2 linked regions of the Homo sapiens genome follow. The protein of the gene in region 2 interacts with the protein of the main gene of each other region in a pairwise test. Each region holds a gene or a part of one and is shown on either strand. Other genes may lie near its edges. The genes, in order: MAGEC3 and GPC5.

Region 1 (7,301 bases), on a different chromosome or scaffold from region 2:
TGATTTCTTATTTTTTGACTTTTAGGTTCAAGGATATATGTGCAGGTTTGTTATATAGGTAAACTCTGTGTCATGGGGGTTTGGTGTACAGATTATTTCATCACCCAGGTAATATGTATAATAACTATAGATAGCTTTTTGATCAAGTACTAGGGACTATCAAGAATGTAAAATACGGCAATATGTTTGCGAATGTCATGAGATTTAACTCAGGTGGTCAGGAAATTCCTCTTTAAGAAGATGCAATTTGTTTGGAGACCTGAAATATCCAAAAGGAGTCTTTGGATTTGATAATTAAAATGGCTTTGATGGTCTTGCAAAGTACAGCTTTATTTGAGTGGTAGAGACAGGAGTCAGAGAGCACCAGGTTGAAGAAAGAGTGACTGGTAAGTAAGAAGAGACAGACAAGAAGCTTCACTCTTGTGAGGCTTAAGTGGAAAGAAAAGAAGAAAGAAGAAAAGAAGTGAGAAGGAAAAGCAGAGTGAAGTTATTATCACATTATTTTTTACAATTCACCTTTAAAGTGGTTCCTGATGCTTCCTCTTACTTAAATTTTTATTTAATATTAAACATATTTATAAACTATAGTTAATTAGCCAGTAGAAAGGCAGATGTTGAAAATACAGAAAAAAAAAGAAGCAGTGGAGCAAGGTCCATTCTCAATCCCCTTGAATAGAACAATTTATTCATTAACTATTTACTGAGCATTTTTGTGTTTGTTTTGTTTTTGTTCTTGTGGGGTTTTTTTTTTTGATGTGAAAAACACACAAAAGCATAACTACCCACTGACCAATTTTGCAGGAGGACTCATGCTAATGCTAATACATCAGGCTGAATTTTAGACAGAATGGTTGAAGAAAATAAATGCTGAACAGTCCACTTTAATATGGCAATTTAGTGAGGAGAGGCACTCTCTCCCATTTAGAGACACAAGAAAATATTGCTTCTGTGAAAATCTTCTTAACATGGAGATGTTAGTAATGATGCCAAATTTATGAAATGTTCTTAAAGAGGTCTGAACAAAGTTTGCTACATAGAACAAATTCAAAATAATATGTAATTATATGTTTTTCCAATATCATATACTTTTGAAAAATGCAAAATCTTGTGCTAAATGTAACTTTCACTTTCTTAAATCACTTTTATGTCAATATTCTTATGAAAATATTTCTTAAAATTAAATGATATTTTATGACCTGATATTCTCTACTTGTCATTTATTTAGATTGCAAGCTAAAAACTAATTAGAAAGACTATACTTTTGCTGTTAACTTTCTCAGAGGTAAAATATCACTTTTCTTTAGTGGTTTGTGATGCTATGAATGAATACTTTCCAGGTTGGGTATTTCCTGGCTGTTAAATATCAGTTAAGTTTTGGCTGACTTCACCTCCATCTATCAACCTCCCTGCCAATCATTTAACAGCTATAGAATAGGTCTCCTCACACAAATCCTTCAGGAAGAATTTCCATTGTGCACATTCTGACCAGAAGAAAAAATGCAGCAAATTTTTGGAAAGTGAATCATTTTTAGAGTTCTGAGCAAATTATGTTAAACTCAGGGTTTCTCACTGTCAGCACCATCACATTTTAGGCAGTATAATTCTTTCTTGTGTGAGGTCGTCCTTTGTCCAATAAGACGCTTAGAAGCATCTCTGTCTCTGCTTATTAAATACCAGTAGCATTCCCTGCTGCCACCAATTATGACAACCAACAATATTTCTAGATATTGGCAAGTATCCCCTAAGTGGCAAAATCTCTTCCAGTTAAGAACCACTGAGTTAAGAACAGTAAGTAATGATCCAGGGAAAATGGATATAAAGATATTAAAAAGCTAGTAAAGCATTTGACATATTAGAAATGCATATAAACAATTCATATTTATAAAATAAAATCTACTGAAGATATAATGAATAAACACTTGTTTTGGTGAGCAAGCTTGGGATTGCAGCTGTGGGCCTGGAAGTGGTAGGAGCTGCAAAGCCTGCCCAGGATTAGCTGTAGCCAGAGCCGGCAGCCAAGACAATAGCAAAGATCAATTTGACCTCAAGATATAATCAAATATGACAGCAGAGTGAATGAAGCTTTTATTTTGCTCCGTTCTTCTCCATAATCCTTCTTATGCCCATAATCATTATAATTACATAAAATATTTAAAAACCTTTAAAAATTATTTCTTGGAAACCATGAATATGGCAGACTAGAGGCATTTTGTACTCACTTTCTCCATTAAAAATAACCAAACGGTGAGTCGATAATCACACTTTGAATATATAATTCAAAGGAAATCACTGGAATCCATTAGAAAAGTGATAGGCAATACTTAAAGCAGAGATGGAGAGGGAATCAAGGCAGCCTGCTCATCCAGGATCAGCTGTGAGCTGAGAGACTCCAAATACAGAGAAAGGATAGGTGAGAGAGCCTCAGTAGTTTACATTCTCACTATAGACTCCTATAATCCCAGCCACAGGAGATCCCTTCAACCATCATGGGCCCCGAAACTAACATAGAAAGCTGCCAGGAGATTGTATGATGGCACTGCTTCAGGGAGAAAGCTCCCGCTGGGTCCCTCACACTTCTTGAGACTTAAGCAGCTACAACAAAGTACCATTTTAGAGCCCTGCCCTCAACAGACTGAGCACTGTCCTGGAGCCCAGTAGCCCAGGGCTGAGGTGCAAGAGAAGCACGAACTGCTGCCCCAGGGACATAGGCATCAGTGACTACAGACTACAGCATCTGGTGCAGAGGTGGGACGAAGGCGTGGGCTGCTGCTTTTAGGACTGAGGCACAAATGAGGCACCACTGCAGAGCCTCACCCCCGATGAACTACATACTGTCCTGGAGCCCAGTGGCATTGAGGCCTAGGTGCAAACTAAATGTCTGATGTTTCCCTGGAGATTCAGACATGAGCGACCACAGGCTACTGCAACCAAGGGAAAGACATGAACATCAAGGCTGGGCAAGATAGCATCTTAGAGCCTCACCCCCAACAGACTGCACACTGTCTTGGAGCCAAGCAACACTGAGGCTGAGATGCAAAAGAAGAGCTGGCTGTTAACCTGGGGCTTAGACATGAGCATTCATGGGCTACCACACCTGGGGCTGAGGTGGGAGCACCACTGGGGATAAGGCATATGTGGCACATGTGTTTTTCACCCACTGGCCTAGACTGCCATCACTGAAGGTGGCATCCAACACCCAGTGGCAGGGCAGCAGCATGGCCACTGCCACCCTGTCTTTACCAAAGAGATAGAGACCATAAAAAAGGAACGAACAGAAATTCTGGAGCCAAAGAATGCAGTGAATAAACTAAAAAATACACATGAAAGCTTCAACAATATACTCAATCATAACTGACTTATGTTAAGATCACATTTTGCTTGAAGACAGTTTTTTTTGAAATAACGCTGTCAGACAAAAATAAAGAAAAAAAGAAAATAATAAAATAAACCTTTGGAATCTATCTAACAACATAAAGTGACCAAATATAAAAATCACTGATAGCCCAGAAGGCAAAGAGAGAAAACATGTTTTCAAAGACCTATTTATTGAAATAATAGATGACACTTCCTAAGTCGAGCAAGACACTTAGACATTGAGATACAGGAGGCCCATCAATTCCTAAACAGATACAATGTGAAAAGGTCTCTTCCATAGCACATTACAGACAAAATATTTAAAGTTTTTTTTTTCTTTTTTTCCAAGATGGCAGATTGGAAGCATTATAAGCATACTTATCCCACTTGGTAAGACAAAATGGCATGTAGAGATTCATGCTGTAAAATTTATTCGAAGAAACAATGTAAGAACTTAACAGAAAAACTGAAAGAAACCACAGACCCTTTGAATGAAGTGGCAGGCAACAGACTACATCATAAAACAGATGGAAAACCATTAGTCCCCAGAGCATGAGAGAGGGATAGATTGCTGTCATGACATATACTCCCACAGGCGAGCCAGGCAATACAAGTCATGAGGGAGGACTTCAAACCTACTCAGCTCTAGAGGTGATTCAGTGAAAAGTAAGGAATATATAAGAAGGAGCAGCATCGGGACATGCTTTGTGTGCAGACCCAGATTCCAGCAAGAATGGAGGGAAGCCATTCCTGATCCCACCTCACGGGACGTTGCAGAAGTCTAACTCAGGCTGCAGTCACAGTTTGAGAGAAGAGCCCAACTGGGATTTGTGATATAATCCTTAGTAAGGACAAAGCTGATTGGCCAGAACCGAGGGGCAAGTGAGAAGTGTGCTACGGCAACAAGGCACATGAGCTGCATGGCCCTGCTTCACAGGTGGACTGGAAAGGATGCAGCCTGAAAGATATGGTTTCTGTGTCCATAGGGAAAGCTTATGGCCTGGGATGGTTTTAAATTCTGAGCACGGGCCACTTGAAACCCAGTTAGCTGCTGCTGCTAGCAGAACACTGTGGGTATGAAAACTGACTTGCCAAGTGTGTGGGAGCTGAGTGGGGCTTATTACAACCTGCTGCCTCCCACTTTTCAGGCAGATTTTTTGTGCAGCAGAGGCAGCTGTGTTCCTGCCTGGAACATTACCCCACCAGCCAGGGAACTGCCCTCGGATCCCCACTGGGGCCACTGCTTGCACCTGCACATGGGGAGCCAGAGTGCAGACTTGCCTGACTCAGTTTAATAACTTCTGAGGCACAATGAAATCATCCCAATGCCTCCATGTTCAATTTCAGGCACTAACAAGTCCCTGAGGTATTAAATGCATTGCTTTTCTGCGGTCTTGCCACCTTCAGGAGCTTACTAAGAAAATGAAGAAGAGCCACGATCACTCCTCTCAATTAGCCTCTTCCCTTGGCTGAGAAATGTGTTTCCGGTCTTGAGAACACAGAAGTTTTGCATTTGCTCATGAGAGATCTGAAACCTTCTGACACTGCCCTGCATCTTTTCCATTCCCTCTAAATAGAGAAGACTCTTCTCCTGTCTCCTACCTTCTGCTCTGACATCCATTCACTAACACCTAGGCACAAAAAGCCTAGTTCACCCAATGGCAGAAACGGCTAAGGTGGGCCTCTTCCAAGCTATGAACAACATTTCAAAGCTTAAGTCCCTACCCTCTTCCAACACAATGTCCTTTTCATTCCTCTAGCTCAGTAGTGCTCAGATTGGGGGTGATTTTGCACCCCATCCCAAGAAGACATTTTGCAGTCTGGAAATATTTTTGGTTGTCACAACTGGGATGGCTCTTGGTGCTATCGGCATCTATTGAATAGAAACTAGGAATGCTGCTAATCATTCTAAATTCAGCAAGATGACACCCCCTCAAAAAAGCCCACAGAACTATCTGTCTCAAAATGTCAATAGTAATAAAGGTGAAAAACCCTGTAGCTCATTCCTTAATAGGCCACCCAAAGAGATTTTGGATGTTTTCATTTATAAAATTATGCATATATTTTGGCAAATCAACAGCTGTTTCTCACCACTGATGGTTAGACAAGGGAAAGAATAAGGAGACTGATATTATAATGAGCTCATTCTATGCCAGGTACAGTGCTCAATACTTCAGATTTATATTATCACATTTAATCTGTTAAAAATGTCCCAACATGTAGTAACAAGAGTTATTTTTATTTTACAAAGTTAAAAGAAAACTGAATTTTGAACAAATTGAAAGATCGATTCAGATTACAGCATCTGTAAATGGCAGAGCAGAAACTTACTATTAATGATCGCATGGCTTCAGAGCTGATGCCAGCCATCTCAATCTCACAAAGATCTCCGCATTCACTCATCTTTTACCCTCAAGCATTGTCTTACGTAGACATTCCTGACTTATTCCAATGGAAAGTCAAAAACAGAAATTTGATATTCAACAAGGAATATTATGTAGGATTTTGCTGTTGTTTCCTGAAAATTTTTCAATATACTGAATAAGCTATGGGAAAGCAAGCGGAAATAGTGTTGGCTTATAAAACCTCTCACCCTGTGACTAACCAAAATGAACAGAAAGGATTCATCAATGCTGAAACTTGAAACAAAACTGAGTCTTAATCAATATAATTCTTGAGGTATGATTCAGATCCAGTATAATTTGGCCCAGATTGAAAGAAGACTCAAAAATCAATATATAACCCCTATCACTACCTTGGTCCAGATATTCCAATTTGAAGAAGCAAGGAAATTAGACTTGAGCAGATCTGGAGGAAGTGTAGGCTGCACTGTGTGGAGCTTGTTTCTCCACTGCAAATAAGCATTCCTGAGAAACTAAATGCTGGACAAGATGCAAAGCCATACAACCGATGTGATTGCCTCCCTAACTACCTGCCAACCTGTAGTTTATCTTCCTTCTAAACAGACAGAATATCAGAGAGAAGTAGAAGCAATCTCTTGAGAATCATAGCCACAGCCTTCTGCACAGAAAAATACATAGGGTCAAACAAAACAAAAACCTCAACAACCCTGGACTTTTTATGAAAATGAATTTCTCACTTTGAGAGGGAGTAAACTGAAACACAAAAAGGCCATTCTTCACCAACAGATGAGAGCATGCCCCCAACACGGTGCTGCTGATGCCAGTGCATAGGAGCCAAAAAATCAAACTGAGCAACTAAGAAACAAACCAACAACTAAGAAAAAAACTTCCTGACTGCAACTACTCACAGCCCCAGATATCTCCTCACTGTCCCCCAAGCCCCCTGTTCCCATAAAGGAGCTAAATGACTGAACAAAGAATAAAAACAATAAATGTGCAAATTGTTCGGTGCATGTTTCAAGGCATTGGTCCAAAAAAATATGCAGACCAGTTCTGGAAGTTGGGCTAAAAAAGACAGATTCTGAAGCTGCAACTGGAAGATTTCTTTAGTAGGTCTGGAGGGGTGATTGATGCTCTGTACTTTTTCACATCCATGTTTGAGAACCACTGTTCAAAGTGGAGAGAGAGGGTTAAGTCAAAGATTTTCCTAGAACAGAGATATCAAGGAAAACGTATTCATCTATTTTTGGCAGTGGGGACAATCCATGGCCCCAATTCAAAATAAACGAGAAGAAAAACAAATAATAACAGCATAGCACCAATATGTAAAATGCTCTATAACATAGAAGGGAAGAGAACAGGAATACAGCAAGCAAAGACAACTAGCTAAGTAGTATTTGTTGCCAGGTTCTGCAGTAGTGGCTGAAGAACAAAAGTGACCACAGATATTTAACAAGTGGAGAAACTAAAAAATAACTCTAAAATCAATAGGAAACAATAAGGAACATAATCAACCCTATAAAAAATTTAGTAATTTAAAGTATAGGCTTGGGAAACATTAAAACTACACAGGAAATGAAGAGA
Region 2 (8,080 bases):
TCAATAGGCTTAAAAGAATTGGAGCAGGGTAGAGAACAAAGGTGAGGGGAATCTGAGAAACAGTTTAAATCACTGCTCTCACAATTTTAATAATTTCAATTTGGATAACATTTTTATCAGAAAAAGTAAAAGTCACAAAGGTAGGAAGAAACTAAAAACTTATTCTACCTGCTTATATTATACAAACTGTGTTTTGGCTAGACATCTCAGGGATTAACCACTGTGAACAAGAAATGCAAGAAAGCAGTAAAAATACGTACTTCCAAAAACAAAATCAAATTAAATGTGTTTGTTTTAGTCAGTGAAAGGGTATGTGCTAAATGAATAGATTTGTTAAAAGATATTACTATTTGTATTCTCATGGAGAAATGACTAAATTATGTTCTCTCTTGAGATTGAGGATAATCTTAGAAAATATGATAGTCAATTACCATATTCAATCATGTTAAATGTTGTAGATCATATATAAATACAAAAAGAAAGAAAATTATTTATTAAGCATGTGGTATGTTTGGTTTACTCAATTTGGGATTGAGGGGTTTTTTTTTTTAGAGAGATGAGAGGAATCAGTGTTTAAAAAAGTTTAATATTTTGCTGAATTATTTGTAAAAGAATGACCAACAATACAGACACAAAACTTCAGAATTATATCAAATTCCTATATGAATGCCTTTTTTGGGGGGTGGATCTAAATCAGCATAGCACTTTTGTGTGACTTTTTCTTAGTGAAAATATTAAAGGAACTTAGCATTTCTTTTCACCAGTACCACTGATGTCTCTAAGCCTCTTCTGTGAGTGCTCCCGTGATTCCTCCATCACCTTCAGCCACAGATTTAAAAAATCTACTAGCAATGGGGAAACAATCCAGAGTGACTTAGAAAAGAAAGATTCCTTGTCGTCATGGAACTTTTTTGTGTGTCATGTGTATCAAATGCAAATAATTACAGTCATTTCCCTCTCCTTAGGACAGAGCTTTAGTTTTCCCTGACATCCTGGTAAGACACTGTCTCAGTGACTGATACTCTGGAAAGTTCATCTTTAAAAGAGATGAACACCCAATCAATGTGTTGCATTCAGCAGATACCAGAAATACTGAGATACCAGAGTGGAGTGAAATCAGGGCCTTACTGGGGAGAAGGGGCTGGCCATCAACATTCGGTGAACATAGCAGGCAAAGTTACCATATTTGGGGACTAAAAATCTAATAATTCAGGTAAAGATCTCACATCATAACACCCTCACCACCCACACGCACAAACTCACTTTAGTTTTATCAGCAGCCAATAAAGTGAGATTTATTTCCTAATGAAAAGAATGCACTAAGAAAAATACAGATCTATAAGGCGATATTTTATTTGGGGATAGAAGAATCGCCCTAAACTGAGAATGTCAACTTTGTTTCAAGTAATACAGAAAAAGCACCTAGTACCAAACAGGTATACAAAGAAATAGCTGGGTTTAAGACTGGTCATGTAAACTCAAATGGAGTCAGTGTTCCCGAATGCCTAGATTTTCTTTCTGGGATGACTTAAAATTGAGCAAAGCAATCAAGAAAAGCGGCTACAGCTCACACTTCCTCATTGCTACAAGCAAGTCCCCCAACCCTGGAAACTCGGGACTTTAGACTTAAGCGTCCTCCACAAGTTCTTTGTTCAACCAGTAACCTCACAGATTCGTCTGTGTTGGCTTCATAGTCACAGCTAAAGGGGTGCATGGCTCTAGTGAGATCTTACTTAGCTCTAGACACCTGCTATTGCGTTTGACAGCTATGACCTATTCTTCCAGACAGAACCTACACTGGAACTCCCACCAGCAGAAGGAAATTGGTGCGGTGGAAACGGGGAGCAGGGTTCGAAAGCACAGGCAAAAGGCGCTCACAGGAAGCAAGATCCACGCTGGCCACACAAACTGTATCTTTCCCTTTGGAACGCTGGTACATCTCATCCATGTCAAGTGACTCCCCAGTACGTTCGGTTTGATCGCCTGTTGCCCTAACACTTTTCAGGCTAAAAACTACCTTGGTGCTGGGAGACACACTGGGTGGTTGGGTTTCCTCCAAGCAGGGCTTGATACGAGGGCACAGAAGGGCAGCTAAGGGTCACGTCTCTGGGTGCACAGGGTCCAAGTCCTAATTACAGAGGAGACCGGCTGCCCTTGTCTGTGCCCCATTCTCCAGCAAAGGGGTATATCGCAGGTTTGTGATTTTTAGTACCAAACTTGGGGCGATCAATTCAATTCCCTCCACCTTATGAGAAAGCAGTAAACCGAAATCCCCGGTGGGGCACTGGGGAAATTCCTACTCGGAAGAGAAACGGAGTTAGACTGCGTGTCCCCCACGCCCTGATGTCTGCTTTCCTGGTTCCTTCCAACTCATCCTCCAAGACGAAGGGAGCCGGGCGGGAAGCAGATGCCCAGAACGGGGATTCGTCGCAGGCTTGGTTAGGGGTCCCCAGAGCTGCGCTGCGCTGCACTCAGGCTACCCGCACCAAGCATCCCCGGAAGCCTCCCCGGGATTCACCCTGCGCGGCTGCAGGGCCCGAAAGGTCATCTTCCCACGAGTGCCACCAAGGGAGCCTGGGGGAGCGAAGGCCGGGCTCGGACGCCGCCAGTCCAGAGACCCCCTCATTGCCCCTTACCTGCCCGCGGCGAATCCGGCAGCCCCCTGACAGCTCCCAGCAGCCGCCACTGGAAAAGTTTCCGAACTTCTTCGCAGGTCTGCACGCCCTCGCTGCGGGCGGACCCAACCAGGGCCAGAAGGAGGAGGCAGCGAAAGCCCACGGGCCAGGTCTGTGCGTCCATCCTCGCCGTCCTGGTCCCCTTTACCCGCCAGTGGACCCCACTCGCCCTGCGCGCCCTGGCTGAGCTGCAGACGTGGAAGACACAGCGGCCGAGGCTCTCGAGCGGTGCGAGCCGGCTGCGGGGTGTACGGACCGCCCGCGGGCACCGGCTTCACCTGGGAGCAGTTAGCTCTTCCCGGAGGAGGCCCTAAGCTGAGACACCAGAGTTTTCCAGCTGAGCACCCTCTGGTCTTCTTCCCTAGCCGAGAAGAGTGGGCGGCTGGGCGGGGCGAAGAAAACTAGTGGAGCCGCAGGGAGCCCGCAAGCATCCGCTCTGGCCACCACTGCTGCAACTGCTGCCGCTGCCGCCACTGCCGCCACTGCCGCCACTGCCGCCGCCGCCGCCGCCTCCGCCGCCCGGCTCGGCTCGCAGCAGCTAACCTGGGATGTGCCCGCTCGCTGCGCTCCGCGGAAGCCCCGCCCCGCACTCCCCGCCCCGCGGACAGGCCACGCCCCTGCCACGCCCCCGGCGCGCTGTCCCGCTCCGCACCCACTAAGATGCTGTCATACGCGGCCCAGTGCTGAAGACTCGGAGCGACATCGATGCAAATAAATAGAAGGAAACCCGGACCTCGCTCTCCCAGTCCGTTCTGGGGAAGAATCATCTGATAAAAACAGAGAATGTATAAATAGGGTCAGAGAAGACAAGAGATGAGAAACACCAACTGGAACTAAGAAATATCTCATCTATGTAATCAAGGTCCTCAGTACATAGGAATTTGTATTCTAATTGCATTAAATAGGATCTGGACATAATACAAAAGGCAAAAACTATTTACGGTTAAAGATCTCAATTGAGAGACTTCATAACACTTAGGTTGTTAAAGAGTGCACATGAGAAGTTATTTTTTAAAATGGCTTTGTTTTACTGCTTAGGAACATTTTTCTATAACATGATTTTCTGAAAGGAGGTATAAGAATTACAATCAAACTTTATCACATTCTTATCACAATGAAATCTAGTTTTAAGTCTCTTATCACCATTTAGCATCATATTTTACTTCAGCACTTTGTATTTGTGGGGCTCCTCTGAGCTTTACCACTTCTGGAATTTCTTTAAAATATTTTTCAGAGAGCAATTAAGTTAAGAGTGCTCAGGGGAGTTCCTTACAAGGAATATAGAAAAATAAATACTTTAAGCAATTTTAAAATGGCAAAGGAATTTTGTCAATTTACAGTTTATGAGAGGAATGCATTACGCACCATAAACCAAAGGGCAGGTGCATTTTTTAAATGTGGTTGACTCAACAACTAAGCCTGTAAGAGTGTCTCAATCTACAGCCACTTGAAGAGAGTACTCCTTCTGTAAAATAAACTAGTTAAAAGCATCAGGCAGAGGGGACAATGAATGCTTTAACCACTTTAAGGAATTTCATCTCAAATTTGAACCCTTACCAAGAGATAGTAGTGAAAAACTTTATGTCTTAGTGAAGATTTTTAATGAACATTTAATATCAAAGGCAGCACTTTCAGCAGTATATCACTTGCTTTAAAACCATTCCAGGGCAATGGCTGAAACACTGCTTCAGAGTGAAATCATGCTACTTGGTGTTTGGCATCAGTTTTCTGAATATGAGATTTTGTTTCAAAGGGCAGTGCTCTTCATGAATCTCTTCTGCTCTAACCACCAAGTATGGAAAGATTGTCTGGAAGCCACCTATATCTATGAAAAGAAACAAGAAAAACCATGAGAATGTATATAGTGCTTATGGGCCAGATAATATTCTAAGTATTTTATGGAAATGAATTCACTCATGTAATCTTTATAACAACCTTATAAAGTAGTTACTACTATTATCATTGTTTTACAGATGAGGAAACAGGAACACAGAGGTGAAGTGACTTACTGAATGCCTAAGGTAAGTGACAAAGCCAGAAATCAAACTGAGGCTTCCAAATCCAGACCGCATGCTCTTCTCCAGAGGCTCTCCTTGACTATTCTGTGGTACAGAAAAACCCATCAGGTTTCACCAAAGGCCTTTGGGCAGCAACACCAAGGGCTGTTTATTCATTTAGCAGATTTTTTACTAGTAAATATGCATAATTTCTATCTATATAACTGTATTCTACTGGAATTATGTGTATCTCTATATAAGGCTAATAAATTCCCAAGTTTTTCTAAAACATCTTTATTGTTACCAAGATCTCTCCTTGATAGATTTGATCATCTTAGACTCTTAGCATCAAAAAGATCCTTAAATTACCATCTATCCCATTAACTGGAATCTCTAAAACGGTGTGTCTTGCAAGGATAAAAATCATAAACACAACTGAGTATTGATGGTTCAGTAAAAGCTAATTGACTAATACATATTGGTTGAAAACATACAATTTTTTTAACCGCTATTCTAGGCTTAACAGGAGTTTAAAGAGACACACAAGCAAGTTTTCTCAGTGATTTTATAAGTTAACAAAACAGGTGGGAGGTCATTTATAGAAATGCCATAGGAACTAACAAGAATATATTTAGTCTGTATAAAATATCCCCATTAACAAAAAATAAATATATTTTCCTTCTACCTCTTATCCATAACTGCTAGCAAAGTGGATGAGCCAGCATGTGGCCTGGAAGGGCATCTTGTCCTATTAGCATCCCTAAGCCCACCACGCAAGGCAACAGTATGCCTGCTACTGAAGCTACCAAGCTTCAAGACAAGTTTTCTAGTTCCACCCAGAACACAATGCCACGATCCCTTTTATAAGAACATTCTAGAGCAACCTCTGCAAATTATACCATAACTAGCCTTTTATTCAATTTACTGGTAAACATTACAAATGAAGCTAGGGAAAACTGTCCATAATTTGATAGTTATAATGCCTTATTTTACAAAATGTATTTAAAAAATGTATTGAATGTCTTTTATATAATAGGCATTGCGCTTTGCTTTCAAAATACCAATACCCTTGGATAGGAGAATCCTTAAATGGTCATTATTTAAAATACAGCTTAGTAATATTCTAAATCCAAAACTTCCCTGATACTTTCTATGTAACTGTTTATATGTTTATAGTTTGTCAACTTAGGACCTTGTAAAGAGAAATAAAAAACCTCGGCCGGGTGCGGTGGTTCACGCCTGTAATCCCAGCACTTTGGGAGGCTGAGGCGGGTGGATCACGAGGTCAGGAGATCGAGAGCATCTGGCCAACATGGTGAAACTCCATCTCTACTAAAAATATGAAAATTAGGTGGGTGTGGTGGCCCATGCCTGTAATCCCAGCTACTCAAGAGGCTGAGGCAGGAGAATCGCTTGAACCCAGGAGGCAGAGATTGCAGTGAGCCCAGATCGTGCCACAGGACTCCAGCCTGGGGGACAGAGTGAGACTCCATCTCACAAAAAAAAAGAAAGAAAGAAAACCTCCAGTGTGGTTTAGGTGATTTAATGATATCACAGAGTCTTCAACCCTGACTATTCTTTTAGGCTAAGACTGGCCACTAATTAGTTTACCCTCAGAAGCTGATTTGGGTAACTTTTATACCCAGTCAATGACAAGAGCTAAGATTTATTAAGCACTTACAGATATTATCTCATTTAACATTTCAACCATTCCATGAGACAGTTACTATTATACTACTGAGAAAACTGAAGTACAAAGAGATTAAATAACCTTCCAGAAATCCTGATAAGAGCCCAAATGCAAGCCAGGCTTCATAACTTTTGTACCCCTTTAGTCACTACACTCGCCTGCCTGAAAAGCCAGACACCTGGTTTGTGGCCCCTTGAACTCAACCTATCATATAAATATAAACTCTGGTACTCACAGCTATCCATGTGGACAACCTGCTGAACACCTTGGTTATAGTGGTCCAGAGCTCTGCATTGGCTTCAACGATGGCCTGATAGTACCTCACTGACGTGGGGCTGGCCAAGGTACTACCTGCTCCTACTTCCTACCTCCACTAAGCTTTTAACTAGGAGAACTGTTTTGCAAGCACTAAAATCCCACGAACTGCCTTGACATCTTTGAGCCTCACAGGTCCCTAGTCATGAGTTCTCCTGCTCTGGCCAGATATGCCCCCCACCCAGATGGAAAGTCTTGCTTGCTGGCTACCTCCCTTAGCTGGACCAGCTCCATCCCACCCTGTCTTCAACCTAATGGCTTTCACCTCCCTTCAGAGCAATTAGTCCAACAAGATAATCACATCCTCCTGTGGGAACCAAGGGGTCCTCCCCACAACACACCATCTTCTTGTTACTACAAAGCTTGCCTCCCACAACTCCTGCAGGTTCACTCTGCTCCCAAATGAAGCCCCTCCTCCCCTGTATGGCCCTGCATGGCATGTGGTAGCCTCCTCCCCTGGGCTATGAGTATGTGTGACTAACAAACTGCTGTAAATCTCATCTGTCCAGTCTTGTGTGTTTGATCATCTCGTATAATTTACAAAGGGGGATCCCTCTTTCATCAACTGGGTGAAAAGGAGGTTGTCAGAGAAAGAATATCCTTAATACAAATAACTTCCACTTCATTATTTCCAAAAAAGTGCTGACTTTTGTCTTGCCCTACCTTCTCTCTCCCTCCGATGTAGGCTCTAAGCCGTTGGTTGCACAATAAAGAGAACCAAGTTGGATGTCAGCCCGAGCTGCCCCAGTAATGAATTTCTGCCACCAAGTAACCAGGAGAAAATTGAGTGATACTCCCCTGAAATCTCCTCTAGTGAAGATAGTAATGGTTCTGTTAAAAAAAAAAAAAATCACCACCGGGCACAGTAGCTCTCGCCCGTAATCTCAGCACTTTGGGAGGCTAAGGCAGGAGGATCACTTGAGCCCAGGAGTTTGAGACCAGCCTGGGCAACATAGGGAAACTCTGTCTCTACAAAAATTCCAAAAAAATGGCCAGGCATAATGGCACATGCCTGTAAGCCCCAGCAGCTTGGGAGGCTAAAGTAGGAGGATCACTTGAGCCCAGCAGGTTGAGGCTGCAGTGAGCCATGTTCGCACCACTGCATTCCAGCCTGGGTAACAGCGTGAGACCCTGTCTCAAAAGAAACGAAAAAAGAAGAGAGGAGAGGTGAGGCGAGGTAAGGCGAGGCGAGGAGAGGAGAGGAGAAGGCAAGGCTGCCTAAAGGAGAGACTACACAGCAAATAAAATATTACATAAAATACTCAAAACCAGACACCAAACTGAAATTAACATGACAGTCAGTGGGAATCTTTGATCAGCAAACATTTTCAAAAATCACACACACACACACACACACGTGTCAGTATACCACTAATGTGTATATATATACACACACATGTGTG

Evidence for each region.
Region 1: the proteins of GPC5 (region 2) and MAGEC3 interact in binary tests that used the Homo sapiens proteins (3 or more experiments, as listed by UniProt).

The regions. Positions count from the first base shown.
Region 1 is NC_000023.11:141,834,232-141,841,532, reverse strand, and holds the start of MAGEC3 (melanoma-associated antigen C3), read right to left. Parts: upstream 3,218-7,301; coding exon 3,095-3,217; intron 1-3,094.
Region 2 is NC_000013.11:91,393,766-91,401,845, reverse strand, and holds the start of GPC5 (glypican-5 precursor), read right to left. Parts: upstream 3,226-8,080; 5' UTR 2,800-3,225; coding exon 2,637-2,799; intron 1-2,636. UniProt on the Homo sapiens protein: Cell surface proteoglycan that bears heparan sulfate.